Linked DNA regions of Homo sapiens: region 2 is linked to region 1. Evidence: fine-mapped expression QTL. A gene starts in region 1. The other region holds a variant in brackets. All regions are shown on one strand. Distances are between the middles of the regions.

What was found. PIP is the estimated chance that this variant, and not a neighbour inherited with it, causes the effect.
Region 2: its variant is the best candidate, but not a certain one, in a credible set for the expression of PEX7 in whole blood (INTERVAL, PIP 0.76).

What each region holds. Positions count from the first base shown.
Region 1 is chr6:136,813,802-136,829,480 of GRCh38, forward strand. It overlaps PEX7 (peroxisomal biogenesis factor 7), which reads left to right and starts at 8,791. Exons shown (of 10, transcript NM_000288.4): 1 at 8,791-8,994; 2 at 11,413-11,470; 3 at 12,518-12,668. The coding sequence starts at 8,865. RefSeq lists enhancers at 8,362-8,511, 8,395-9,127, 9,128-9,860, 9,242-9,401 and silencers at 8,692-9,071, 14,537-14,737.
Region 2 is chr6:136,870,518-136,886,196 of GRCh38, forward strand. It overlaps PEX7 (peroxisomal biogenesis factor 7), which reads left to right. Exons shown (of 10, transcript NM_000288.4): 8 at 1,681-1,736. Among named protein-coding and RNA genes, the nearest start is that of SLC35D3, 44 kb to the right of the region's middle. The variant A/G (reference allele first, on the strand shown) is at 6,358.

The sequences.
Region 1 (15,679 bases):
TTTTTCCAAAAGCTTATTGGATACCCTAAATCCATATTAGTTTTTACTTTGGTGCTCTCTCATGTGGCAACCATTTCTCTGCTCATTTATTATTCCTCCCATGTATCTGTTAACTTTGGATTAGTTTAATGGGAATATAATGTGAATTGTCCTGAAAATAAGGCACTTAACAACCATCATTAATGAACATTAGATCCTCATTTATTAGTGGCCGTCACTCATTCTAAGTTATACAGAAGAGAGCATGAATGAACTAACTGAAAAGAAACCTATTGCATTAAGCAACATATTTCCAATGGCACTTTACTTTTTGTATTTAATAATAATATTTATCAAATTTTATTAAATGTTTATGTAGTTTTAATCAATAATGCTATTCATACTACTACTAATAACAATACATTAATGATAACTCAGTCTAAAAAAATATAATCCTTAAAGCCATATGGTTATAGGAAATTTATTTATTATTATTATTATTATTTTTGAGACAGAGTCTCGCTCTGTCGCCCAGGCTGGAGTGCAGTGGTGCAATCTTGGCTCACTGCAACCTCTGCCTCCTGGGTTCAGGCGATTCTCCTGCCTCAGCCTCCTCAGTAGCTGGACTACAGGCGCCCGCCACCACGCCCAGCTAATTTTTATATTTTTAGTAGAGGTGGGGTTTCACCATATTGGCCAGGCTGATCTCAAATTCCTGCCCAGAGGTGATCTGCCCACCTCAGCCTCCCAAAGTGCTGGGATTACAGGTGTGAGCCACCACACCCGGCCCCAGGAAATTTTTTAAAAATTAAAATTTCAGGCTAGGCACAGTGGCTCATGCCTGTAATCCTAACACTTTGGGAGGCCAAGGCAGGAGGATCATCTGAGCCCAGGAATTAAAGACCAGCCTGGGGAACATAGTGAGACCCCTCCTCTGTATGAAAAATAAAAAAATTTGCCAGACATGATGGCTGGTGCCTGTAGTTCCAGCTACTCAGGAGGCTGAGGTGGGAGGATCACTTGAGCCTGGGAGGTTGAGGCTGCAGTGAGCTATGATTGCACCACTGCACTCCAGCCTGGGTTACAAAGTAAGACCCTATTTCAAAATTAATTAAATTAAATTAAAACATCAGTTTATGTATGTAATTTTCTAATGTGATAAATATGATAAAGAGATCAATAAAATGATTTCAAGCATAAATGAACATTACATTAGAGAAAATTCTACAACAGAATAGTAGAATGGAATTACAAGTTCAAGAAGAAAAAGAAATGACAAATTTTTCTTTTTTTGATTTTATCTTATTATTATTATATTTTAAGTTTTAGGGTACATGTGCACAATGTGCAGGTTAGTTACATATGTATACATGTGCCATGCTGGTGTGCTGCACCCATTAACTCGTCATTTAGCATTAGGTATATCTCCTAAAGCTATCCCTCCCCACTCCCCCAACCCCACAACAGTCCCCAGAGTGTGATGTTCCCCTTCCTGTGTCCATCTGTTCTCATTGTTCAATTCCCACCTATGAGTGAGAATATGCGGTGTTTGGTTTTTTGTTCTTGCGATAGTTTGCTGAGAATGATGATTTCCAATTTCATCCATGTCCCTACAAAGGACATGAACTCATCATTTTTTATGGCTGCATAGTATTCCATGGTGTATATGTGCCACATTTTCTTAATCCAGTCTATCATTGTTGGACATTTGGGTTGGTTCCAAGTCTTTGCCATTGTGAATAGTGCCACAATAAACATACGTGTGCATGTGTCTTTATAGCAGCATGATTTATAGTCCTTTGGGTATATACCCAGTAATGGGATGGCTGGATCAAATGGTATTTCTAGTTCTAGATCCTTGAGGAATCGCCACACTGACTTTCACAATGGTTGAACTAGTTTACAGTCCCACCAACAGTGTAAAAGTGTTCCTATCTCTCCACATCCTCTCCAGCACCTGTTGTTTCCTGACTTTTTAATGATTGCCATTCTAACTGGTGTGAGGTGGTATCTCATTGTGGTTTTGTGGTTTTGATTTTCATTTCTCTGATAGCCAGTGATGGTGAGCATTTTTTCATGTGTATTTTTGGCTGCATAAATGTCTTCTTTTGAGAAGTGTCTGTTCATGTCCTTTGCCCACTTTTTGATGGGGTTGTTTGTTTTTTTCTTGTAAATTTGTTGGAGTTCATTGTAGATTCTGGATATTAGCCCTTTGTCAGATGAGTAGGTTGCAAAAATTTTCTCCCATTTTGTAGGTTGCCTGTTCACTCTGATGGTAGTTTCTTTTGCTGTGCAGAAGCTCTTTAGTTTAATTAGATCCCATTTGTCAATTTTGGCTTTTGTTGCCATTGCTTTTGGTGTTTTAGACATGAAGTCCTTGCCCATGCCTATGTCCTGAATGGTATTGCCTAGGTTTTCTTCTAGGGTTTTTATGGTTTTAGGTCTAACATTTAAGTCTTTAATCCAACTTGAATTAATTTTTGTATAATGTGTAAGGAAGGGATCCAGTTTCAGCTTTCTTTTTTTTTCTTTTTTTAAAATTATTATTATACTTGAAGTTTTAGGGTACATGTGCACAATGTGCAGGTTAGTTACATATGTATACATGTGCCATGCTGGTGTGCTGCACCCATTAACTCGTCATTTAGACAAATTTTTCTAACAGTTAAAAATGACCTTGTTCGAATGTTTTTTAAAAAATTGATAGTAGTGGATAGCAGGCTTTATAAGATGGCCCCCAATGATCCTTGCCCCCAGGTATAATATTTATGCCCTTGTGTAATCTCATCCCCATGAGAGTGGGCTTGACCTAAAGACTTGCTTATAACAAAGAGAATACAGCAAATGCGATGGGATGAGGCTTCTGAGATAAGGCTATCAAAGCACTATGATTTCTATGCTGCTCTCCTCTTTTGCTCTCTCTCTCTCTTCTGTGTGCTCTGAGGAAAGCCAGTTGCCATATTATGAACTACCGTATGGAGAGCTTCATGTGACACAGAACTGAGGGAGGTCACTAGCCATTAGCCAGCCATAAACTTAGGCCCTCTGCCCTATGGTCCATAAGAAACTGAATCCTGCCAACAGTTACTTGAGGAAGCTTGGGAGTAGATCCTCCCCGAGTCAAGTCTTCAGATCACCCAGCAGCCCTGGCTGACCCCCTGATTGCAGTCTTGTGAGAGACTTTTATCTGCCCCAGAGAAACTGTGAGATAATAAATGGTTGTTTTCAGCTGTGAAGCTTAAGGACAATTTGTTACACAGTAATAGATAACTAATATAATAATGATAAGTACCAAAAGCCTATTGTTTTTAGAATCCATATGATACATTTAAGGTTGATCAAATATTTTTACTTTTAAAGTGACATTAATTTTCAATAAACTTGAAATTATGTCATTTGCAGCTATTTAAAGTTACGAGAAAACATTTTAGAGGGCAACTTAAAACGTAGATGTGCTTCATCATGATTATAAAGTATATGAGCCAAAAAATTAGCAAAGTACTAACAGCATTGAGAAATCCTTACTTCTTGGTGATAGCAAAAGAGGTTAAGAGAGAGAATCAAGAGTGAAATGGGGCCAGGCACAGTGGCTCACATCTGTAATCCCAGCACTTCGGGAGATGAAGGCAGGCAGATCATTTGAGGTCAGGAGTTTGAGGCCAGCCTGGCCAACATGGTGAAACTCCGTCTCTACTAAAAATACAAAAATTAGCTGGGCATGGTGGCATATGCCTGTGATCTCAGCTACGTAGGAGGCTACGTAGGAGGCTGAGGCAGGAGAATTGCTTGAACCTGGGAGGTGGAGGTTGCAGTGAGCTAAGATCATGCCACTGCACTCCAGCCTGGGTGACAGAGTGAGACTCCATCTAAAAAAAACAAAAAAAAAAGAAAGAAAGAAAGAAAGAAAAAGAGTGAAATGGGAACTAGAGGGTTTAATTTTCTGCCATGAAGAAGTAATTTTAATACTTGAGCCAAGTTAGAATGCACACAACTAAAATGATAGCCCCTGCCAATTGAGGGCTTACAGTTACACATGATACCTGCCCCATTTAATCCTCACAACAACCTTTTGAGGGAGATGTTATCAGCATATGGATTTGAAACAGCCAATGTATCACACCTCATGTTGTTTTGTTGAGTTGAGCCTGCAGAAGAGGCACCTGTCTATCCAGCCATGTGGGGAATCAAGGAGCTGTCAGTACATGTGCAGCATCATCTAAAATATTAATCCTACCCAAGAGCTGAAAGTAGATAAATAGATGTCACACACTTTCCACCACACAAGCTAAAAAGCATAAGGCCTGGTTTCAATCCCAGGTTTCTGACTCTAAACACCATGCTCTTAATTGCTGTCTTTCCAGAAAAAGACGAAAAGACTAAATGCATTTTCTACTATGATCAGATTATACCAATTGCTCTTATATTTTTTTTCTCTCCTTCCACATAGAAGTGCAGTAAATGTATGTCCTAAACCAACACTCTAGTTAAGATTCTAATTTTATTGTAGCAAAATATACATACCATACAATTTACCATTTTAACCATTTTTAAGCAGACATTTCAGTGATGTTGAGTATATGCACATTGTTATACAATCACTGTCATCTATTTCCAGAACTTCATCTTCCTAAACTGAAACTCCATGCCTGTCACACAATAACTCTCCATTCCCCACTTCCCCTTGCCCCTGGCAACCACCATTCTATTTTCTGTCTGTATCAATTTGACTACACTATGTACCTCATATAAGTGGAATCATACGGTATTTGTCCTTTTATGCCTGGTTTATTTCACTTAGCATAATGTCTTCAAAGTTCATCCATGTAAGAATATCCCTCCTCTTTAGGGAAGAATAATATTCCACCATATGCATATATTACATTCTCTTTATGTGTTCATTTATTGTCTTAGTTGGTTCAGGCTTCTATAACAAACTATCATAAACTTGGTACCTTATAAACAACAGAAATATATTTATCACTGTTTTAGAGGCTGGAAAGTCCATCATCAAGCCATCAGCAGCAGGTTTATGTCTGGTGAGGTCCCACTTTCTGGTTCATAGATGTTCACTTCTTGCCGTGTCCTCACGTGGTGGAAGGGGTAAGAGGGCTCTCTCTCCAGCCTCTTTTATAAAGGTAATCATCTCATTTATGACCTAATTACATCTCAAACACCCCACCTCTTAAAACCATCACATTGGTGATTAAATTTCAACATATGAATTTGGGGGGGACAGAAACTTTCAGACCATAGCATCTGCCAATGGACACTTGGGTTGCTTTCACCTTTTGGCTATTATGAGTAATACTGCTGCAAACAGGAGTGTACGAATATCTGTTTGAATTGCTGCATTTAATTCTTTTAGATATATACCCAAAAGTGGAATTGCGAGATTATATGGTAATTCTATGTTTAATTTTTTAAGCAATTGCTATCCTATTTCCCATATCAGCTGCACCATTTTACATTACCACAGATTCTAAAATTTTTAACAAGAAAGTATAACTAAAATAATAAGTGATGAATGATATAAAACGAGCAAGGTAGACAATTAGCCCATAATTAGAGACTCTCAGAGCTTTAAGGGTCTCTAAAGTGCATCAGTCCAAGTATCCATCATATATTTGAAGATAGTGCTTAAAGTTCTTGGATGATGATTACATTAACCCTCTGGCAAACATTGATTAAAGGCTAACTAGGTACCCAGCACAATGCTGTGCAGAGCTAAAAGGAACAATGAAATTATCCATCCTTTCTTGGAATTATTTCCCATAACTACCATATGCAGCCTGCCGATTTACCTAGGATAATGATTCACCTGGGTAGAAAGACCACGTATTTCAATTATTTTACTTCTGGTCTCTCTCCATGGGAAAGATAGACTAGTTTTAAAAATGATGTGGGTTGGTAAATATTTGCAGTTAGAGTCTTTGTGAGGTCACCATAGCAGTTATAAAACAAAACAATCTAAATATAATTGTAGATCCTTATAGAAACCTGACATCTAGCCATGTCTGCCTACATTATTAGGCCTTCCACAGAGTTAAATGGTCTTCCACAGAGTTGGCCAAGTTTAGAAGTTACACAACTCTGAGGTGTAATGAATGCTCATAAAAAATGGTTTCTGTCTCAGTTGGGAAATACCAAGTACTCCTAAACAATGACAAGAACAGGTGGAAGACAACAAAAAGAGTCTTTTTTTTTTTTTTTTTTTTGAGACGGAGTCTCGCTCTGTCGCTCAGGCTGAAGTGCAGTGGTGTGATCTCAGTTCACTGCAACCTCTGCCTCCAGGGTTCAAGCGATTCTCCTGCCTCAGCCTTCTCCAGAGTAGCTGGGATTACAGGTGCCCACCACCATGCCTGGCTAATTTTTGTATTTTTAGTAGAGACAGGGTTTCACCATGTTGGCCAGGCTGGTCTCAAACTCTTGACCTCAAGTGTTCTGCCTGCCTTGGCCTCCCAAATTGTTGGGATTACAGGCATAAGCCACCATGCCCGTCCCTTCCAGGCAATTCTTAACTCCAATTCTATCCATACCCCTAGCAAACTTGGACTCCACTTAGTAAAGCATGGGTGGAGGAAGGGGTGTGGAGCAAGGGCAGGGGACAAGGAGAATCTAAGGAGCATTTCATGTTCCTTTTCCTTAATTTTCCAGTTCACCTCAAGTTGTCAAACATTTGTGCAGTGTTTACTATATATTGGACATTCTTCAAGGTACTGGAGACACAAACAAATTAGACTTGGACATTACTTCGAGATGCTCAAAATCTAGTGTAAGAGTATGGTTTATTTTTTATATGTTTAGTTGTTTATATTTTAGAAAGCTTCACAGGTGGGATGAAATATTTTACAATGCTATAATCATGTATGGTTAGGTAAGGAGCAGGTAATAGCTCAGTTTGTGTGTGTGTGTGTATGTCCAAGGTCACTGTAAATAGTTTACCCCAGCTGGAACCAGCCTTTCTCCCTCCCAGAGATACCACACTATTTTTAGCTTAGATTGGATAACTCTTTATATACAACTCTTTGCCAAGGTCCCAGCTGCTTCATGTTTGCTTACTTTGATATTTTATTAACGCCTATTTAGCATTTCAATAAACTCCAGAATGTTTCCAGGTTACTTTTTGTAGTATTACGAAAAACACACTGATCATTTAGGCACTGTATTAGGCTGCATTCACTCAACATTTCCTGAATGCTTAAATACCAGGTCCTTGGGATACAACAGCGAACATAACAAGCAAAAATTTCTGCCCTCATGCAGCATACATTCCAGTGACTACATATGATAAAAATCCAAAATAATAGAGGCCACACTGGTCTGGATCCTCAAGTGATCCGCCTGCCTCGGCCTCCTAGTGTGCTGGGATTACAGGTGTGAACCACCGCGCCCGGCCTGCAAAAGTCTTTTAACTGGCCTCCCCATCTCCAAACTCTATCCTCCATATTAGTGTTGCAGGACTTTTTAAAATAAAACCTTGGTCATTTAATTTCTCACATTAGAAAACTTCCACTGTTTTTCACTGTTTACAGTAGAAATCCAATTCTCTTAGTATGGTATATAAGACTCTTCATGATCTAGCCCCAGTAAAACACTCTACAGTCTCCCCACCCAATATTTTTTTCACCGTATCCCTTCCATCTGGCCAGGCTGAGTCCTGGCAGCCACGACCCCCTATGGATCATGCTGGTTTAAATCTCCTGGGTTGCTCATGTTATTCCTGCTCCTACAAAGATCTCCATCTTCTTGTCTACCTAAAGAAAACCTACTCATCTGTGTGCAATCACCATAAAGACTTATCTCTCTTCTGCAGCCTTTCCTGCAATTTCCATACCTCTGGCACGGACAATCACCTTTTAAAAATACCCCATATAAATTTATCATAGCCTCTACAGTATTTTGATTACACTTAACTAATTACATGACTTCTCTTTTAGTCTTCTTCTCTAATCTCTTGAGGCCATGGACCATATCCCATTATTTTGAATCCCAAATGCCTAGTACTGTTCTTGGTATATGGTTAAGATGATCATACGACTTGGTTTGTGCCTGTTGACCTGGCTTAATAATTACACCCTCTTTACTCTCAAAAGTATCTTGGTTTGGCAGATAAATTATATTTGGTCATTCTCCACATAGTATATGCCTGGCAATAAATGAATGAATGAGCACCAGCATCTGAGCACTTATTACCATACAATATATACATGTATAGTAATACTTTTTAAAAAAGTTGTATATGATGATGTGCTGCTTTTTTGCTTAGCTTCATTAGAACTGGCCAGCTCCTTTTTCTCACTTGCCAAGCATGGGGAGTTGGTTTGGAGTTGGTGTTTCATCTTTTCCAGTTACAGTGTGAAAGTAGCCCACCAGCCCACGCTCTTATTCCTAAAGACCGCAGTGACTCCACGGACTTAAGTTCTCATTGCTTCCAGTTTCCTTGGGCAACGCAGCACGCAATTTTGGACGCGCTGCGTGGTTTCAGAGTCGGCTGTAACTTTTCTCACTTTATAATCATCAGGAAAAGTTCCTGATGCCAGTCTTCCAAACGCTCAATGAAATAAAAACCAGATAGCACCGCAGAGGAGGCTGAGATGCAACGACAAAAGCTGTCGTAATTATTAATAATACCTAACCCTGGATCACTCCCCTGATAGATCTGTATCTTTGCAGCAGGCGCAATTCAGTTTGGATTCACCCAAAACAAAAATGGTCTCCGTCGGAGTCAACGCCCTTTCCTGTGCGGACCAATCAGAATCTCAAACACAGGGCACGGGGCCCACACTTCCGTCCGGTCTGCCTGGTCTCTCTAACCGCGCCAGTGTGCCTCCGACTCGGAACGGCTTCCGCGGCCGGGGCAGCGAGGGCCGGGGGCGGCGGGCGGGATGAGTGCGGTGTGCGGTGGAGCGGCGCGGATGCTGCGGACGCCGGGACGCCACGGCTACGCCGCCGAGTTCTCCCCGTACCTGCCGGGCCGCCTGGCCTGCGCCACCGCGCAGCACTACGGCATCGCGGGTGAGGCGGCGCCGCGCAGCTGGGGCCGGGGGGCGGAGGCGGAGGCGGGGGCCAGCCGGGCTCCAGTTCCTCGCGCTCGAGGGAAAGCCCCTCTGAGCGTAGACGGTTCCGCGGGTCCACGCCAGGGGGCAGAAGAGGCGCTGGTCGGCGCTTCTCCTTTCTTTGCCGAGTGCGAGGAGTTGGTCTGAAGCAGGAGTCGATCTTCCAGTTGTGTGCAAGTGCATATACGTGTAGCCTAGTAGCCCGTGTCCTTGTTCCTTGAGACCGCGCTGCCTCCGCCACGTGTCACACGCCCAGGCACACGTCCCCGTAGGGAGAGCCGGGGGAGCCTGCGCGGTCCCTTGGATCGGTCCGCTCGGCACAGCAGTACGGGGAAGACGGTCTGAGCCAGAACCGACCCAGGGCTCGCGAGTTGGCCCACAATTCCCAGTCTGCATTCGAGCACTGAGCTGCGACCTGCGGGCTGGCCTTCCTAAGGACGATGCTCCTGAATGGACGCCTGGAGTCCCACGGGTGACACCATGAAATATATCAAGTTCAGTTCTTACCTGTAGTTGTCTAACGAGGAATGCACACATTCGCAAGTAGGTGTTACAGACTCCAGTTAATTGTCTCCCGTCGCGCGCATTGGCTCAGCCTGTGGTTAAAGCTGCTCAGGAGGCTGAGGCGGGAGGATCGCTTGAGCCCGGGATGTTGAGGCTACAATGAGCTGAGATCACATCACTCTGCCCCAGCCCAGTGAGCTGAGATCACATCACTCCACTCCAGCCTGGGTGACAGACTGAGACCCCGTCTTAAAAAGAAAAAAGGCCAAGCGCCGTGCGGTGGCTCACGTCTGTAATCCCAGCACTTTGGGAGGCCGAGGTGGGCGGATCACTTGAGTTCGGGAGTTCCAGACCAGCCTGACCAACATGGAGAAACCCCATCTCTACTGAAAATACAAAATTAGCCGGGCGTGGTGGCGCATGCCTGTAATCCCAGCTACTCGGGAGGCTGAGGTAAGAGAATAGTTTGAACCCAGGAGGCAGAGGTTGCGGTGAGCCGAGATCGTGCCATTGCACTCCAGCCTGGGCAAGAAGAGCAAAACTCCGTCTCAAAAAAAAGAGTCCATCTAGTCCGTGGACTAGATGAAAAGGCGTAGGTTCATTCTCGCTTTTGCCTTAATTCATGTCCTAGCTATTATACGCACTGAAGCGAGATGCAAAAACTCATTTCATAATGTCAGTGGTCTATTGTATTTTTTTGTTTTGTCCTACAGCAGAAAAAAATGTTACTTCTAAAACTCAGAGAAATACTTGATTTATTTTCATTATTAGCTCTTAGTGCTTGCACATTCAGATTTACATGGCCCACCAGTTAGACTGAAGACTCATGAGTCTATAATGGTAGTAGTTTTCTTTTTTTCTTTTTTCTTTTTCTCTTTAGAGACAGGGTCTCACCCTGTTGCCTAGGTTGAGTAGAGTGGTGCAATCACAGCTCACCGTAGCCTCCACCTCCTGGGCTCATATGATCCTCCTGTCTCAACCTCACCAGTAGCTGGGACCACAGGCATGTACCATCACACCTGGCTAATTTTTGATTTTTTATTTTTGTAGAGACAGGGTATCACTATGTTGCCCAGGCTGGTCCGGAACTGGGTGCAAGCGATCTTCCTGCCTTGGCCTCCCAAAGTGCTGGGATTACAGGCGTGAGCCACTGTGACTGGCCTGTAATGCTACTTAAAATCTTATGCAAAAACTCTTTAAAGGGAATTGGTATTTAAAAAAAAAAATTCAGTCATGTTTAAATAGAAGAGATTTTCCCCCTTGGTCTCTATAAAAAGTAAACATAACTTTTAAAATACAATGGCCCTTTGGTAAAATAATCTTTGACAGGTAACATATTAATACTGTTTTCAGCACTTTATTACCACCAGTTATGTAGTAAATCCCACCAAGTATCTCCGCATTCATATTTTGTTTTAAAATCCTGTGTGAGATGTGTTTTAGATTTACTGGTGAGGAGTGCAGTCCCTGGGGTCTGTAAGCCAGAGGTTTCTCATCTGTCAGTAGGAATGATAACACCAACTTGGAAGGTTTGTGTCTCTGGTGCCTTGTCTGGCTACAGAGTAGGCCCTTAAGTATTTCACCCCCCTGTTAGGTCCATGTCTGAATTCCAATCATAGGTGCAATGGGAAGTTGAATATTTAGTAACTGAAGTACAATATGGAAAAACAGAAATAGAGAACACATTTGGTATTCATGTCCCAAAAACTTTAGGGAGAAATTGATCACCTGACCATTTGGTATTCAAGGTCCCAAATACTTTGGGGAAAAATTTGTGGTATTAAAATCAGGTATCAATTACTTGATAACTCCTTGACTTTCGATGTTACCCTGGCAGGTTCAAAGGGATGACCTTGATTTTTTTTCTCTTTAGGCTGTGGAACCCTACTAATATTGGATCCAGATGAAGCTGGGCTAAGGCTTTTTAGAAGGTAAGGGGGCTGAAATTATTAAAGGTATATATTGTTGCTATTAAAGCCTTAATAGAATTAGGTTTTGACTCTTTGATTAATGTTTTAATATACAGTATAAAAGGAACCTTGGCGTTTGCATAGGATGAAGCTTATTTTTAGCTGATTGTGGTGGTGCGCACCTGTAGTCCCAGCTATTCCCAAGTCTGAGGCAGAAGGATCACTTGAGGCCGGGAGTTCAAGACCAGCCTCGTGGGCAACATAGGAGGACCCCGTCTCTAAAAGAAATTTTTTTTTTTTATGCACAGAGTCTGGCTCTGTCACCCAGGCTGGAGTACAGTGGCGCCATCTTGGCTCAGTGCAGTCTTCCCCTCCTGGGTTCAAGTGATTCTCCTGCCTCAGCCTCCCAAGTAGCTGGGATTATAGGTGCCCGCCACCACACCCGGCTAATTTTTGTATTTTTTAGTAGAGATGGGGTTTCATCATTTTGGCCAGGCTGGTCTCAAACTCCTGACCTCAGGTGATCTGCCCACCTTGGCCTCCCAAAGTGGGTATTATATGCGTGAGCCACTGGGCCCAGCCTAAAAATTTTTTTAATTTTTAGGCCGTAGTCCCAGCTACTTGGGAAGCTGAGGTGGGAGGATTGCTTGAGTCCAGTTCAAGGCTGTAGTGAGCTGTGATTGGGCCACTACACTCCAGCCTGGATGACAGAACAAGACTCTTTCTCTCAAATAAAAAACAAAACAAATCTGAAGCCTGTCTCTTAGTGTCCACTCATAAATTATAAAATTTAAACATAAAAAAATGTGGAGCAGTATACTGTGTACTATTACATTTTTGGACTACTACATTCCACTGGACTGTTTTTTTTAACCTTTCTGAATCTGTTGCCATATTTGTCAAGTACCTACTCTACTTAACTCCCGTAGTTGTGCAGATTACATGAGATATACGTGTTAAAATGTGTGATAAATTGAAAGAAAAAAAACCATAATTGTTATTTTTTTTGTTGTGTAGCTGCCTATGTAAGTGTTGTATTTTTTTGTTGTTTGTTTTTTCCTAGTGTAGCTTTGACTGGAATGATGGTTTGTTTGATGTGACTTGGAGTGAGAACAACGAACATGTCCTCATCACCTGTAGTGGCGATGGCTCGCTGCAGCTCTGGGACACTGCCAAAGCTGCAGGGCCACTGCAAGTCTATAAAGAACACGCTCAGGAGGTAGGAGGGAAATCTTTCTGGGCTGATTATTTTTCTTTCTTCGACTTTGGTTGAAATCCATTTGGGGATGGACACATGGAGAAATATCTTCAGGGGACAAGTTTAAACGTTAGCATTTCTTATACATACTAGATGTCACTTATTATTTGATTATTCAAACATAAAGTACCTCTTGGCCTAAGGAGTGGGGAAAGAAAAGAAAAGGTCAGTCTTCTCATTAGGCAGAAAGAACACCTCCAGCAGTGTACTCTGGCACCATTTCCTCCTGAGAGGCCCATCACTTTCTTTGTGCTCTAAGAATGTGCTTGCCACATGGTGCCTTAAGGTAGAGGTAGGTGGACTTTTCACATAGACATCACAAGATTGCCTTTGGGGCTTCAGTGAGATTCCCGAGGTGTTTCAGAGTATATTGGAGCAAGAGCATAAAATACTGAGTATGAGGCAGAACTTACTGAAGGGATTTTATATCTAAATCTGGTTCATGTGTCTAGATTTTGTGTGTGTGTATGTATAGCATAGAAAATAGTTTGGGCTTCAGTTGTACTAACATACATGTATATTTTCAGTGAACATAAAGACATCCTCTTTTTGTGTTTTTACCTTAAATGTTTTAAGATTTTCCTTAAGGGAGCAGTACATCCTTCAGATGAAAACTTGCTAATCTACTTTCAAATTTTTGTCCACCACAGTGCCTGGCCCGAGAAGGCCCTCAATAAATGCTTATTAGATGCAAGAATATCAGTCTTTTGTGGTAAAGATTAGTTATGTGAGGGGTCCAGATGTTTTATAGCTGTAGCTATTGACAATCAAGATTTCTAAGATTGTTACTGAAATAATGAAAAATTTTAGTTTCTATTTTAATTATGATAGCTATTTGAATAAATGTAGTTGTAAATTACTATGTTTTCAGGGAATTACTGAATATTAAGACAATTTTGGTAAAGGAGAAATTTTAGTTTCAGGATAATCAATGCACGAATCTCTACAGAACAGTATGTCCAAAATTCAGATACTTTTGTGGAACCTGTGTGAATTTGTGTGTGTGTGTGTGTGTGTGTGTGTGTGTGTGTGTGTGTGTGTCAGGGTCTCACTCTGTTGCCCAGGCTAGAGTGCAGTGGTGCAATCTTGGCTTACTGCAACCTCCACCTTCTGGAATGGGCTCAAGCCATTCTCATGTCTTAGCCACCCGAGTAGCTGGGATTACAGACGTGCGCCACCGTGCCCTGCTAATTTTTGTATTTTTAGTAGAGACGGGTTTCACCATGTTGGCTAGGCTGGTCTTGAACTCCTGGGCTCACATGATCCACCTGCCTTGGCCTCCCAAAGTGCTGGGATTATAGGCGTGAGCCACCGTGCCCAGCCAATTTTTGTGTGTGTGTGTTTTTTTGTTGTTGTTTTTTTTTGTAGAGATGGAGTTTCGCTATGTTGCCCAGGCTAGTTTTTGTGATGTTTGACATCTTTTTATACCACTTGTATTATAATGTATTTCTTTTCCTTCTTTCTTTTTTAAAAAATATTTTTCTTTTCAGAAGTTTTTTTTTTCCTTTTTCTTAAATCTTTGGTGCCTTTTATTATCTATATAAATTCAAGGATGATAACTGACATCATAAAATAATATAGCTAGTTAAGGTAAATTCAATATATTGACTTAATGTTTTTCTTTCAATCAAGTAAAGTCGTTGCTTCATTTATCCTAAAACAGTAATATTCATGAAACAATGGGGTTGATGGCTACTTTAGTATGTACATTTATTTGTTTTTAGTGTACATTGAGATAAGTAAGTAATGAATAAAATAAATGTATGTACCAGTTAAAATAATCTCTGGTGTAACTACTCTCTGGAAAATACTGTTCTAGGATATCCTGGATGGATGCTCACTCAGTCTTTACTTCCTGTCAGTGAAAGTAAATTTCACTTTCTCTTGAGATAACTTATTTGACTTTTAGGTTGTTCTGATTATTAAGAAACTGCTTCTTGTAATCCCAACTCTACCTTCTATAGCAACCAACTGCTGCTTTTAGTGTCTTTCTCTGAAGTGGCAAGACCAGGTCCAGCCCCTCTTGTCCAGGAAACCTCTTGAAAATAGCCATCGTGCTCTCTTCCAGACTGTGCACTTGTCATTTCATTGTCCTGTCCTCAGATGACATGATCTGTACGTCTTTCATCCTTCTGATAGCCTCCTTTGATAATCCTGTTTTTCAACTCCCCTTTCAACATATACCTAATTTATTCCAGAAATGTGATGAAGGGCTAAGCTTTATAAGATTTTACCACCATAGTCTTGAGCCCCTAGCTCTAATAATATTACCTAAAGTGGCTATACATTGTTCTCAGCCATGTCTTAGTGTTAGGTTACTTTGAGTCTGCTAGTAACACACTTACCTCTTTTGTTATTTGAACTGCTATTAAACCAGTTTTACATCATTCTGTGATTTTGCAGCTGATTTCTTGAACCGAAGACACACTTCTGTTTTTTAATTTTTTAAATTTGTTTTGCGTACTGCTATTCTAGTTAGACTTCCTCGTTTTCTTTTCAAATGCACTTTTTGGTAAGCGTTTGTATCAGGATGCCTTGAATGTTAGTGTAATAGAAAACAATTAAATGGCTTCAACAGTCAGAGTTTACTGTTTCACATATTTTGCTTGGTTATGTGAAAAATAAATGAAGATAACCTTTTTAGGTATTTGTTACAGCAGCACCCCTAATTCTTGGCACCAGTTTCTGCCTCAGTCTGTTCAGGCTGCTGTAACAAAGTATTATAGACTGGGTGCCTTATAAAGAACAGAAATTTATTTCTTACTATTCTGGAGGTTGGAAGTCCAAGGTCAGGGTGCCCACATGTTTGGGTTCTGATGAGGGCCCTCTTTTAGGTCAAAGACTACTGCTGTCTTTTCATTGTATCTGCAGGTGGTGGAAAGAGAATGAGAGAGGTTTGGGAAATCCCTTTTATAAGAGCACTAATCCCATTCATGAGGGCTCTACATTCATGACCTAATTACCCCCCAGAG
Region 2 (15,679 bases), 57 kb after region 1:
ATAAGATGACTTAGGTTGGTTTCCTGGCTTTTATATTTAGGCAGGTTCTGCTAAATGACTGTGGAAAACATCTTATTAAGTGACATCTCCCAATTTCATCCTTTTGTTTTTTTACGTTAAGGATAAAAAAGTACCTTATTGATTATTTTAATAAGGTAATTATGTTATTCCTACTATTTAAAAAATTCTAAATTTTTTTTTCTTTTTTTTTGAGATGGAGTCTTGCCCTGTCACCCAGACACGATCTCAGCTCACTGCAACCTCTGCCTTCTGGGTTCAAGCTGTTCTCCTGCCTCAGCCTACTGAGTAGCTGGGACTACAGGTGTGCACCACCATGCCCGGCTAATTTTTTTGTATTTTTAGTGGAGACAGGGTTTCACAGTGTTGGCCAGGCTGGTCTTGAACTCCTGACCTCAAGTGATCTGCCTGCCTTAGCCTTCCACAGTGCTGGGATTACAGGCTGAGTCACTGTGCCTGGCCAAAAATTCTAAATTTTTAGTTAAGTTAATATTTTAAGTTTCTCTGGCTGCAATGCAACATAGGAGACACAGTGCTCTGTTTTATTTTTTAATAAATTTGTTTAATTGGACAAGTTTTAGCAGTTGAAAAATATGCTCTATGTATATTTTAGAGTGATTATGAGAATGAAATAAGGTAATGTAGTGAAAGTACTTTGCAAACTAAGTGCTGGTCAAATGTAGTTATATATGTGTATTTAACTATTAAAGTGCGATAAGACAAACACTGAAGAAATGTAATTGCAAAGGTCAACTTATTAAGTACATTATTACTCATCTAGAAGACGTTACTTGTCTTTAAACTTGCTTTTTACCCTTGATATAATTTTCCATTAGCTGTAATATACAAATAACGTAAAAATAACTTAAGGGTGTTTTTATTTAACATTTAAATGTTTATTTTGATAACGTGATTATAGCAATCATATATTTGTAAAATTGGTAAATTATATAATTATATATTTGTACTCTTATATACTTAAATCCCTTATATTTGTAAGAATCATTTTTGTTTATTACTTTGTTTGCTTTTGCTTTTTTTGAGCCAGAGTCTCTCTCTGTCGCCGGGGCTGGAGTGCAGTGGCATGATCTCGGCTCACTGCAACCTCCACCTTCTGGGTTAAAGCAATTCACCTGCTTCAGCTTCCCCAGAAGCTGAGATTATAGGCATATGTGCCACCATGCCCATCTAACTTTTGTATTTTTAGTACAGGCGGGGTTTCACCATGTTGGCCAGGCTGGTCTCGAGCTCCTGACCTGAGGTGATCTGCCCTCCTGAGCCTCCCAAGGTGCTGGGATTACAGGTGTGAGCTGCTGCATCTGGCCTGTAAGAATCATTTTTGGATAGCCAATATGAAATTGTATTTAATTTTTCCAGAATAGCAACATTTTGGGAATATTTTATTCTAAATAAGTTCTAAAAAGCTTGAGGGATAATTTTCTTTGGAGAATGTAAAAATATTTTTCCTGAAGATGGATACTTATAAGGCCAGAAGATTTTTGCCTCAAATTATAGCATATATGCTTTGAAAAAGCATAATTTTAAGTGACAGCTCTGACTCAACTTAAATTTATTATAATGTTTATGGAATGATCATAGAAAGCAGTGTTATAATCACAGCTGACTTCAAAAAGGGTTTTTTTTTTCTTTTTTTTTTTGTAGTTTTCACCATTTCATGCTTCTGTGCTGGCCTCTTGCTCGTATGATTTTACTGTAAGGTACAGTGGTTTTTAATACATTTCATTGTGAAATACCAGGTAACATTTGCATCTTTGCAACTTTTATAAGAGATAATATGATTACTCTTACTAACATGAAAATAATCTGAGATGGGTACATTTAAATATTTACTAGGATTAATATTATATTTTTCCTGTTTTCGTGATCCAGTCACATATATGAGTAAATTTTTTCTCTTCAAATATTAGCCTGGCTATTCTGTTTAAAAGCCATCTTTTCTAATAGATGTTCCTATGGTAACACTTTCCTACACTATAGATGGCATAGCCAATATATTCTAAATTTAGATATAGAAATTTGGAAATTGCATTTCTTCAGGTCTAATTATATGAGTCGTAAGGCTAAGATTGCTTAGATGAAAAAACAATGAACATGAGTGTATGATTTTTTGTGAATGTAGATATATGAACATGTATGTGTATATATGTGCATGGATATCTAGATAAGAGTGTGTGTGGGTGTGGGTCTCTATTTATACTTCCAGTTACAGTTCCATACCACAGAGGATTTATTTTCCCTTTCCAAATTTGTAACTCTTGACTTCCATTTTATTCACAATATATTTTCTTATGTGTTAAACCCTGTAATGCTTAGAAAGTAGTTCAGAATTGCAAAGCCATACCTTTGAAAAAAACAATCTTACTAATTAGAGCTCAGCACTTGCTTAGAGTTTTTTTTGTCTTTAGTTTGAATACTATATTCAGAAGTTACTTAGGTTAATTCTCCTCTTCTCTGTTAGAGTGTGGTTATGTTATTCACTTGAAACATGGTTTGATTCCTTTGTTTCTGTTTGTATTCAATTTTAGGGTTTTCCTCCCATCCTTGTTGATTTTGTCTAGGCAAAACATTGACATGGTTTCAAAAGTCAAGATGTACATAAAGATATATTCAGAAAGGTTTCCAGGATTTTCACTAAAATATATCCTGGAAATCATTCTGTATCAAAGAGATCATTCTCATTCTGCATAATACACCATTGTGTGGATGTGCTATAGTTTATTTGGCTACCCTCCTATCTATGGACATTTAGCTTGTTTTCAATGTTTTGTAAATAAACAGTGCCACAGTGAATGATAGCTTTGTGTTACTAGAGAATTAATGTCTGGTATTCCTAGAAGTGGGATTGCTGAGTTAAAAGGTAAACATATGTAGTTTTGTTAGATATTACCAAATTCCCATCCATAAGGAATATGCCAATTTTGATACTCAGTAGCAATGTTTGAGAGTACCTGTTTCTCTGCCTTCTAAAGATCATTGATTCATTAAGGTTTTCCAGATGTATGATCTTATCACCTGCAAATAAAGGTGGTTCTACACCTTCATTTCCAATTCTGATGCCTCTAATTGATTTTTCTTAAAATTCCCTCCACAAATACCACTAATACAGTGCTAAATAGTTTATAGAGAATGTCTGATTCCTGATATGAGTACAAACGCCTTTAGTGTTTCTCTATTAAAAATAAGATTCTGACTTTAATGCAAATTATATATGTTTACTTGTTTGTCATACTAAGAAAGTATGCATGAATTCCTATTTTCTTGAGTTTTTTTAATTAGGAATGGGTCTTAAGTTTTGTTGAAGGCTTTTTTTCCCAGCATTTATGGAGATAATCATGATTTTTCTTCTTAGAGATATGGCTATGATGTATTATATTAATGGATTGAACCAACCTTGCATTCCTGGAGTAAGTCTCTCACGTTCTTTGTGTATCATTTTCTCACCATGGTGTTGAATTGTGTTTGCTAATATTTTATTTAAAGCTTTTGCGTCAATATTCAAAGGTGATATTAGTTGCAGTTTTCTTTCTTTTCTCGTTTTGTTTAATGTGTCTGTGTTTTACTTGCTTCATAAAAAGAATTAAGAAATTTTCCTTTGTTTCCAAAGCTCTGGAACAACTTGTACAGCATTGAGGCTATTTGGTCTTTGAATCCTTTGTAGGATTGCTCTGCAAAACTAGTGGAGCATGGTGCTTTTTGTGGAGTACTTTCTTGATAACTTCATTTCTTTCATGGAAGTGAGTCTGTTTAAACTTTGTATCTCTAACGGGATCAAGTTTGGAAATTGTCCCTTGCTTTTAGGTTTTCAAATTTATTCGTAGAGGTGTCTGTAAAGTGGGTGGACACAGTGGCTCATGCCTGTATTCCCAGCACTTTGGGAGGCCAAGGTGGGCAGATCACCTGAGGTTAAGGGTTCAAGACCAGCCTGGCCAACATGGTGAAACCCTGTCTCTACTAAAAATAGAAAAATTAGCCACGCATGATGGCAGGTGCCTGTAATCCCAGCTACTTGGGAGGCTGAGGTGGAATTGCTTGAACCCAGAAGGCAGAGATTGCAGTGAGCTAAAATCATACCACTGCACTCCAGCCTGGGTGACAGAGTGAGACTTTGCCTCAAAAAAAAAAAAAAAAAAAAGTCTATAAAGGAATGTTGTAGGATTTCTTCTCTTTCATTGGTTGTTTTACTCTTGTTATTTCTGATTTTGTATCTTTAATAAGTTCTTTGAATATCTAGTGGTATGTTTATTTTGTTATTTTTCTTCAGCAGGCAGAATTTTAATTTATCAATTAGAACTACTTTTTTCAGCTGGGTGCAGTAGCTCATGCGTGTAATCCCAGCACTTTGGGAGGCTGAGGCGGGTGGATCACCTGAGGTCAGGAGTTCAAGACCAGCCTGACCAACATGGTGAAACCCCGTCTCTACTAAAAATACAAAATTAGCTGGGCGTGGTGGCACATGCCTGTAATCCCTGCTACTGGGGAGGCTGAGGCAGGAGAATTGCTTGAACCCAGGTGGCAGAAGTTGCAGTGAGCCGAGATCGTGCCATTGCACTCCAGCCTGGGCAACAAGAGCAAAACTCTGTCTCAAAAAAGAAAAAAAAAGAACTTTTTTTTTTTATTAATCACTGCTTTTATTTTTATTATTTCCTTTTTGGTACTTTCTTTTTGTTGTTCTTTTTTTCAGCTTCTTGAGATAGGAATTTATTTTTATTCTTTCATTTTGTTAAAGTATTTAAGGCTATAAATTTTTTTCTGGTTATTATTCAAACTATAGCCCATAGATTCTGATATATAATGTTTTCATTATCATTTTAAAACATTTGTAAGTTCTGTTTATACTTGCCTTTTCTTCCAAGAGGTGTATAATAGGAAATTATTTAGTTTCCATATGAAAATGCCTTTTAACTTAAAAAAATTTGTTAATAATTTCTACTTTTATTGCATTAAAATCAGAGAATACTATTTTAGTCATTCTGTTCTATGGAACATATTGAAATTTGGGGGAAGTGGAACCTAATAAATGATCAGTTTTTGTGAATGTTTCATTTGCAGTTCAGAAGAATGTACAGTCTCCATTTTCAGGCTGTAAAGTTCAGTATATAATCATAAGCTTACAAATTGATTATGTTGTTTAGGCCTTCTGTATCCCTTCTTATTATTGGTCCACTTAGTCTGAGAATGGTATGTTACTGAGAGTGGTATGTTAAAATCTCCTATCATTAGCAGGCTTCTATATCTCCCTGCATCTTTTGTAGTTTTGATTTTATAGAAACAGATGCTGTGTTTCTGGTATGTAGATATTATGGTGAATTGAGACTTTTAGCATTAAAGAATATCCTTCTTTGTCACAGTTAATGCTTTTTGTTTCAGTTATGCCTTGTCTCATATCAGAATCATTGCCCTCGCTTTCATACTGTGTTTACTTTCCAGATATGCTTTTCCCCATACCTTTTTTTTTGTTTTATCATATTTTCAATTCTTTCATTAAATTTTTTTTTTTTTGAGACAGAGTCTGGCTCTGTCGCCCAGGCTGGAGTGCAGTGGCACAATCTCGGCTCACTGCAAGCTCCGCCTCCTGGGTTCACACCATTCTCCTGCCTCAGCCTCCCGAGTAGCTGGGACTACAGGCACCCGTCACTATGCTAGGCTAATTTTTTGTATTTTTAGTAGAGATGGGGTTTCACCGTGTTAGCCAGGATGGTCTTGATCTCCTGACCTCGTGATCCACCCGCCTCAGCCTCCCAAAGTGCTGGGATTACAGGCGTGAGCCACTGCGCCCGGCCGATTAAATTTTTTTTATTATACTTTAAGTTCTGGGATGCATGTGCAGAACGTGCAGGTTTGTTAACATAGGTATATACGTGCTATGGTGGTTTGGTGCACCCATCAGCCAGTCATCTACATTAGGTATTTCTCCTAATGCTATCCCTCCTCTAGTCCCCCACCCCCCAAAAGGCCCCAATGTGTGGTGTTCACCTCCCTGTGTCCATGTGATCTCGTTGTTCAACTCCCACTTATGAGTGAGAACACGCGGTGTTCGGTTTTCTGTTCCTGTGTTAGTTTGCTGAGAATGATGTTTCCAGCTTCATCCCTGCCCCTGCAAAGGACATGAACTCATCATTTTTTATGGCTGTATAGTGTTCCATGGTGTATATGTGCCACATTTTCTTTATCCAGCCTATCATTGATGGGCATTTGGGTTGGTTCCAAGTCTTTGCTATTGTGAACAGTGCTGCAATAAACATATGTGTGCATGTGTCTTTATTGTAGAATGATTTATAATCCTTTGGGTATATACCCAGTAATGGGATTGCTGGGTCA[A/G]ATGGTGTTTCTGATTCTAGATCCTTGAGGAATCACCACACTGTCTTCCACAATGGTTGAACTAATTTACACTCCCACCAACAGTGTAAAAGCCTTCGTATTTCTCCATATCCTCTCTAGCATCTGTTATTTCTTGACTTTTTAATGATCACCATTCTAACTGTTGTGAGGTGGTATCTCATTGTGGTTTTGATTTGCATTTCTCTAATGACTGGTGATGATGAGCTTTTTTTCATATGTTTGTTGGCCACATTAATATCTTCTTTTGAGAAGTGACTGTTCATATCCTTCACCCACTTTTTGATGGGGTTGTTTTTTTTTTGTTGATTCTGGATATTAGCCCCTTGTGAGATGGATAGATTGCAAAAATTTTCTCCCATTCTGTAGGCTGCCTGTTCACTCTGATGATAGTTTGTTTTGCTGTACAGAAGCTCTTTAGTTTAATTAGATCCCATTTGTTAATTTTGGCTTTTGTTGCCATTGCTTTTGGTGCTTTAGTCATGAAGTCTTTGCCCATGCCTATGTCCTGAATGGTATTGCCTAGGTTTTCTTCTAGGGTTTTTATGGTTTTGGGTTTACATTTAAGTCTTTAATCCATCTTGAGTTAATTTTTGTATAAGGTGTAAGGAAGGTGTCCAGTTTCAGTTTTCTGCATATGGCTAACCAGTTTTTCCAACACCATTTATTAAATAGGGAAACCTTCCCCCATTGCTTGTTTTTGTCAGGTTTGTCAAAGAGCAGATGGTTGTAGATGTGTGGCATTATTTCTGAGGCCTCCTTTCTCTTCCATTGGTCTATATATCTGTTTTGGTACCAGTACCATGCTGTTTTGATTGCTGTAGCCTTGTAGTATACTTTGAAGTCAGGTAGTGTGATGCCTCCAGCTTTGTAGGATTGTCTTGGCTTTATGGGCTCTTTTTCGGTTCCATATGAAATTTAAAGTAGTTTTTTTCTAATTCTGTTAAGAAAGTCAATGGTAGCTTGATGGGGATAGCATTGAATCTATAAATTACTTTGGGTGGTATGGTCATTTTCACGATATTGATTCTTCCTATCCATGAGCATGGATTGTTTTTCCATTTGTTTGTGTCCTCTCTGATTTCCTTGAGCAGTGGTTTGTAGTTCTCCTTGAAGAGGTCCTTCACATCCCTTGTAAGTTGGATTCCTAGGTATTTTATTCCCTTTGTAGCATTTGTGAATGGGAGTTCACTCATGATTTGGCTCTGTGTTTGTCTATTATTGGTGCATAGGAATGCTTGTGATTTTTGCACATTGATTTTGTATCCTGAGACTTTGCTGAAGTTGCTTATCAGCTTAAGGAGATTCTGGGCTGAGACGATGGGGCTTTCTAAGTATACAATCATGTCATCTGCAAACACAGACGATTTGACTTCCTCTCTTCCTATTTGAAATCCCTTTATTCCTTTCTTTTGCCTGATTGCCCTGGCCAGAACTTCCAATACTATGTTGAATAGGAGAGGTGAGAGAGGGCATCCTTGTCTTGTGCCGGTTTTCAAAGGGAATGGTTCCAGCTCTTGCCCATTCAGTATGATAGTGGCTGTGGGTTTGTCATAAGTAGCTCTTATTATTTTGAGATACTCTCCTTCAATACCTAGTTTATTGAGAGTTTTTAGCATGAAGGGTGTTGAATTTTGTCGAAAGCCTTTTGTGCATCAAAAATCATGGGGTTTTTGTCATTGGTTCTGTTTATGTGATGGGTTATGTTTATTGATTTGTGTATTTTGAACCCCCATACCTTTATTTTTAAACAGTTTTGTTGAACCATTTTGTTCTAGGTATGTTTTTGTATAGAGTATATATTAGGATCTCGCTTAGTGAACAAATAGTCTTTTTATTAGAATATGTAAGTTTAACTCTTTCATATTTCTTGATAAAAATGTTTAGCATCGAATGTGTCATATTTTATGTTATGATTATTATTTGTATTTTATTTGCTATGTTTCTGTGTGTGATGTGCTTTTTTGTTGTGTTTTTTTCTTTGACAAATTTTTTTTGACATTTAGGTAAGTTTTTATATGTTTTAGTGGTTGCCTTTGGTGTTACAACTTTTTAAATGCCTTCATAAGTTTTCTGAAAAAAATTAACCGTTTATTGCCTGGTTGTGAGTTTTTCATTATATTTTTGTGAAATCCCACCTATTTCTTATATAATAACCAGTGAACTTGTTCTACTTTCGCTTTTTTTTCCCTTTTCCATCAAATTTTGTTTCATTTATGCTTTGTTAGAACATGCAACATGTAACATATAGCACATATCATATGATATATTTTTACTTAGTTTCTACCTTTGTTTTAGTCTTAAGTGTATAATTAAATATATTAAGTGCTCATTATCAGTTTTTTATTCCTAAGTTTCCCTCATTATCTGATGCAGTTTATCTTCAGGAAATGCCATAGATTTCTCAAGAGGGACTGATGGGCATAGAATTCTCATGAACTCTCATATGTTTAAAACTATTTTTCTGTAGCTTTCCTACTTGGAGGATAGTTTAGCTGAATATAAACTCCTTGATTTACATTTCTTTCTTTGAGGTTTTTGAAAATGCTACTATGTTTTTATCTTGCTTTCTATGTCGTTTTTGAGAATTCTGATGCCAGTCTAACTCTCTTTTACTTGTAAGTTGTTTGGCACCACCCCGACCCCAACCATCAATCCTTTCCCTCCTCCTCGAGACCCTGGGGAAAAAGAACCCTTGTTGCATTTCAGTTTTTCTTGCTGCAGGCTCAGTGAGCTCTTTAAGTATATAGATTTGGGTCTTCTTTTATTCCTAGAAAGTTTTTTGAATTACAATTTTAAATAATAGTTCTACTTAATTGTTTTATTTTCTGTGGAACTCCCATTATGTATAAAAGGACTCTCCTTTACCTGTCTTCTCTCTCAGGTACTTTCTGTCTGATACTTTTTCCTTCTATATTTCTTTATCTCATTTTCATTCTTTTGGTTGTTTTCCTGTTGTCCTCAATGCCCTTATTATGTTTTTGTGTGAATCTGCTCTTCTTGGGCCCCAATGTAATTCTGTGTTTATTTGTGAAATGATTTTGCCTTTTTTCTTGTGTTTCTTCAGTTCAGTCAGGTCTGTTTCAGTTCTTCTGTTTTTGTCCACTTCTTTTCTTTGTTTTTGAGTTCCTGATCAAGGGTTTTGTTGGTTTTTTTTCTTCCATGTCCCTAAATGCTTGCTTGAAGATAATTTGATTCAGTTTAGAATATGTTACGGTTTTCTACTTCACTATTTTTTTTTTTGAGGGAAGCTTTTGTCAGATGAATTGTTGGAATTCTTGTAACCATTTATTTGTGTATGTGTGTGTTTTTAAAAATAAATAAAGACTTTTTTGTCTCTTTATATCTGTGGACAGGGTTGATGGTTTGAGGTTGGCACCTTTCCTTCCTTTTAATTTTCTTTCACCCCTAAACTATCAACTTTCTAAGATCACCTCCCTGTATCCAGTGTACTTTAAAATCTGTAATCTAATCTTTATTATGCCTTTTTCCAGTATTTTCACTCATAGGATGCACTTTCTCTTTCTCATGATGGTTTTAGGTCAGCGTTAGACCTAGTCCTAGCTCCTGCCCTCTCTGTACCATTCAGTGTTCCCCACACTGTCCTTGCCATTCACACAGGCTTGCAGCTGGAACAAGGAAGAGAGCTCATAGGGATTCTGTTTTGATTTTTCTTCTTACAGTTAATTTGAAGTTTGGATGTGTGGAAGACCTGAGGTTTGTGTAGTTTTATTTGTTCTCTTTGTTGTTCTGTATTGGTTTTTGTAAGAATACAGTAACAGTTTTGGATTTACATGGCCTCATTGCCTAGACTCTCCTCTCTCCTCACTTCTGAGTCCGTATTAGATATGGCCCAGTCTATATAGCTTTGTTTGTATAAAATGTACTTCTAATAGAATAAATTACAACAATGCTTTGAGATGTATTTCATGCCTTAACTTGGTTTTCTTGATTCATTCAATACAAGCGGGCAGACAGCTGGGAAGAATAATCACATGGAGGCTCCCAGCTCTCAAAAGTGTACTTTAACCAGGCTTTTGTTTGTTTTTTAGTATTCCATATAAAATAATAAGTAGTGATTATAAAGTTTTCAGCCTGGGAACTAACGAATGGCAACACAACAGAAAGGAAGAAACTGGAACTGTGGAGCTAGATCACTGGCTGGAGGTTAAGGCTGTGCATGTAGATTTGGACACCATTTACTCACTGATAATTCAGTCCATAAGAATGAATAAGCCAAAGGGAGATAAGTGTAGAGAAAGAACAAAAATTCCCTCCTTCAGGAGGGAGTTCATGTTGGAAAGCAGGAAGGAGCAGCCCACCAGGAACAGGAGGAAACCTTAGAGCATGCAATAGTCACAGAAGCTGTGGGAGGAGGGGCTTTCAACAAGGTGTGAATGGCCAGTAATGTCAGATCCACCAGATAGGTTAAGCAGTATGAAGAGAGAACTTGGAATCTTCTCTTTTTGTCGCTCATGGATTCAAAAAGATATCCACATATAGGATCTAGTTCTTGGAATTCGAACACCTTTCTGGCATTTGAAGCAAGAAGGCATAAACTGAGATGAGACATTAATCTTTTGGTGATCTCATATTTGGTATTCTTAACAGTTTTAATTGGGACATCTTAAATCCATTTCAGTGCTTTGTTTCTGATTAAAGAGAAAAATCTAATGACTACTGAGACTTTCTTCTCAGAATTGTCATTTTGATCTTAATCCTAGTGACTGACCACTCCCTGTTTTATGTATTTAAGTACCCCTAAACACCCTGTGGGAAAATGCCTTGTTCTCAGGAATGTTTGTTAAGACTGGATGTCAACTACATTTCTGAAAATCTTGGGAGTATCAAACCATGCTCAGAATCATCATAGTTTTTGGCTTTCAGTCTTACTTTTCTCTCCACTGTTAAATGCTGAGTCCTGAGCAAGGACAGGGAGCGGGGGATAGATATTTAGTGCCCCTGGGGAGGGAGGTGGCTTAGGTCATGGTCCTGAGACCAGATCAAAGGTGTTGTAGCTATATTTGTAAGCACTTGGAAAAATTGAGATTTATAGTTCAATAATAGGAGATCTTTAACGTAAGTTAAACAGAAAGTTAAGAAGATATTTGAAATCAATGATCGTGTATAACTTAGAGTCCAGGTTTCTTTTATTAATGTGTAATATGGCAACTAGTGATATCTGTGCTCACAAGCTCACAGGGTGATTACAAGAAATATATGAGAAGACGTTCTTGAAAATACTATGATAATTCTTAATTGCTTTTCCCCCTCTTCTTCTTCTTTTTTTTTTTTTTTTTTTTTTGAGACAGTCTTGCTCTGTCACCCAGGCTGCAGTGCAGTTGTGTGATCTTGGCTCATTGTAACCTCCACCTCCAGGGTTCAAGCGATTCTCCCACCTTAGCCTCCTGACTATCTGGGACTACAGGCACACATCACCACACCCAGCTAATCTTTGTATGTTTAGTAGAGACAGGGTTTTACCATGTTGGCCAGGCTGGTCTCGAACTCCTGACCTCAAGTGATCTGCCCACCACAGCCTCCCAAAGTGCTGGGATTATAGGCGTGAGCCCCCGCACCTGGCCCTTTGCCTCTCTTCTAAAGCCATCTTTCCAACCCTATTCCCTGCACATTCAGCAAAAGATCTTACCTTTAAAATAATAATAATAATAATAATTGTGGGACTCAAGCACAAATTATCTTAATTTCTAAGCTGGGCCTGCAGATTTTCTCTAAATCTGTACCTCTTCATTCCTCCTGTTATTTAGATCCCTTAGACATGTGTGCTGTTGATCCCTCGTACTTGTTTTCTTCAGGACTTTACGCCGTGAAGTGACCTGTTCTCCCCCTATATCTCTCTATATCTTTAGTCTCCAACTCTTTAGTGACTTTTTCCTCAGCCTGTAACATTTTCCTTCATCCTGCATTTGCCTTTAACTCCTCTCTTACATCTCTCTTTTTTACTTAGCCAAGCTTTTAGTGTCCGCATAAGCTTCCATTCACCAGGGCCATTTTAAGGTCTTCACTGTCCCAGCGTACTCTGTGTTGGAGGTCTTACCCTGGATCACTAGAACCTATAAAATGGATCTACATCACTGATTAAATAGGGTTAATTATTTTGAAAAGATTTGTGGCTTTTGCTTTTGAAGTGATTTGGATTGAGTAAGTCACTTATGATTGATTATGACTTCTTGGCAATCATTATGCTTGCTAAGGAATTCATGTGAAGTAAAAAAGAAACATCCCTAACCTAGAAATTGTTTCCGAGTGGAATGAAATGTTTCTGAGTGCCAGGTTTATCAATTAGTAATGTTAATTTATTAATTTTAAATTTAATTATTTTAAGTTTAATTTAAATGTTCAGGTCTCAGGCATTTTTGTAGACCTTTGAAAGCTTATAGGCATAGGCACTTAAGGTTCTTCCTAATGGCACAACTAGCTTCAGTCCCTCCTTCTTTACTGAAATTGCTCTGGCAAAAGCCACTAGCGACCTCTGTAAAACCAAATCCAGTCCACTTGTCAGCATTTGTCATGCTGAACCTTTTTCTGTTTTACACCGTCGATCATACCTTCCCTTCTGGAAACTCCTTATCCTAAGGATTCCATGTTCTTTTTTGTTTATTTGTTTTTCTTACTCTCCTCTGACCCTTCCTTCTTAGGGTTCATCATAGAATCAGTCTCCTTCTCTTCCCCTTAAACTTGGTCGTCTCCCTTTGGTTTAGAACTTTTTTTACATGCCCGTTCTAAATGATAATTTCCAGCCCCTGTGTCAGGTCTGGCCTTTCTTGAGAGCCTTAGGCCTGCATATTCAGCTGTTTCTGGACACAGGCACCTGAGTGTCCAAACAGGAATCTCACACTGAACTCCTTCTTTGCTTGTTTATCTGTGTTATTTATCTCAGTTAATGGGAAACTTATCCCTATTCAAACAAGCCAAAAACCTGGAATTCTCCTTTTTCTTGAAAAATTGGTAAACATTTTCCCAGTACGAAGTGGAGCATTGCTTCACAGGCAGTATATAGAAGCAACATCATTTTTTTTAGAAATATAATTTTAATTTTAACATTCGTTGTAGCTACTAAATTACTGTTTCACCTCCATGCTAAATGTAACTGGAGGCTAGTGATTGCATATTCCAATATAGGATTATCGAAGACTTTCTTGTAACAAGGAAAATAAATAGAAAAGGAAGCCAAAATCATTTGAAAACCCTTCACTTTTGACTATATTACATGTATATATATTTGTAATTCTCAACACATGTCGAGAATAAGACTTTAATCGTTCTAATGCCTGTGTGAGTCTAGTCTCATTATTTGAATGTGGTGACCACTGATTGGAAAGGTCAGAAAAGGTGCATTTTTGGTGGATTTTTACTCCATGTGATATGAGTTAAATTTATCCTCTGAAGAATTTTAAATCTGATTGGATTGATGATATTTTTAGTGTCAGAAAACCATTTTAACAAGAAGAAAAAGATTTCAGATATAAGACCAACAGTAACCTGTTTAATTTTTAGGACTGATAACTATACAGATACTACCTTTAGATTCTCTGGATGGCTAATATTTGCAACACAAGCTTTTTAAATATAAGTTTTTAATTTGTTGCCCATTGTTATATTTAGGTTTGTAAATTTTTCAAATTTAATTTTAAAATTGTTTATATGGTGGGTGTTATATCAAAACTGATGATATGGTGGATATTTTAGAAAATGTAAGTTTCATATTTCTATTTGAAATTCATGTTGCTATTTACCAAATATAATAGAAGCTTTAAGACCTTTACCTCTGTAGTAGCTCATTACATTTCACAGAATAACTAATGAAGATCTAAGAAGTGATATATAACATAGCATTGGAAATTGTTTAGTATGGTTTATGTTAAATAAAAACTTCAACTTTTATGAAGAATATCAGAACTCCCTTCAGCTGGTGGACAATATAGTCTATCAAAATACATCTTGATTCTTTCTAAACTTCACTCAAGATAATACTAAAGTTAAAATGTTTCATAGTAGATTATTTCTATTCTTCCATGAATGTTATCATCGTAGATTTTAGCATATTATCTTTTTCCTATATACTGTCCCTTAAGTTAGTTAACTTCTCTTCCTGCCAAGCCACATTTGTTGTGCCAACCGTGCATAAGCATTATTTGAGTTGTAAATGCTTGTTTTTGGTTTCATACCAAGTAGATCATTTCATAAACAGAAAAGCAAACCAGGTATGTATGACAACCAAACAAAAGTAAAAGCTGTTATAATTCATAGTTTTTTTCATTAGGAAGAGCAGCATTCCGTGTCTTCCACATTGTAGCAAATTCTCAGATATCTGAAGATTTTAATTGATAAAGCTAAAATGACCAGTTTAGCCTCAGAGTAACACTCCAGTTTCATGATACTTTTATAAATATTATAACCTTTAAAACTTTTTTATCAGTGGTCTTAATGGCCTTTGATAATAATAAGCCAGACCAAGCACTTAATTTTTTTAGACATATGGATTTGGGGGCAAGAAAAATATAAAGTGAATTTTAATTTCAGTGTTGTCAAACTGTATTCAGCCACAGTTTGCGTGATGTGAGTCTCTCTCTGCCTATGTCAGCAACATTAATGTTTCCAACTCAACTGTTAAGCTACTTTTTGGTGACAAAATTGTACAACTGTACTCTACTTTAAAATTCAGGCATATTTACAGAATGTCTGTTATCTGCCAGCCATTGTAATAGACAGTTTGAAATGTCTTTTTGAGGAAATGATAAAAATGAAGGCTTGGAGACAAGTAGTAACACACCTAGGAGAACCCTAAGCCTGTCAGTTTTGTTGGTATCGTGGGACATATGTAGTCACAAATGTAAATAGGGAGTACTGGAAGATATATATTCAATAGAGTAATTATGGGTTGGCACATTCCCAGGTAACATAGTAGGACCACAGACTTTGGAGCCAGACTGCCTTCTACTAGCTGTATAAACTTGAGCAAGTTATTTTAAAACTTGATGGCTCAGTTTCCCCATCCCTGTAAATGGAGATGCTAATAGTACCCACCACATGGGATTGTTGTGATGGTTAGAAGAGCTAATATACACAAATACTGGTACATAGTAAGTACTATGTAAGTGTTTGCTACTTTTGTCATTATTAAGGCTAGAATGGATGGTGACAGAAGGCTGTCTCCTTGGGCTTGAGGCCATTTCAGCGCTCTAGTCTTCAAGAGTGAGGTAATTTTATTTTACAGCAGTAAGAGCAAGCAGCCCCATCTAGCCTTTTGTTGCCCTCTGCTCCTTGGAGGTGAAAGAGAAGT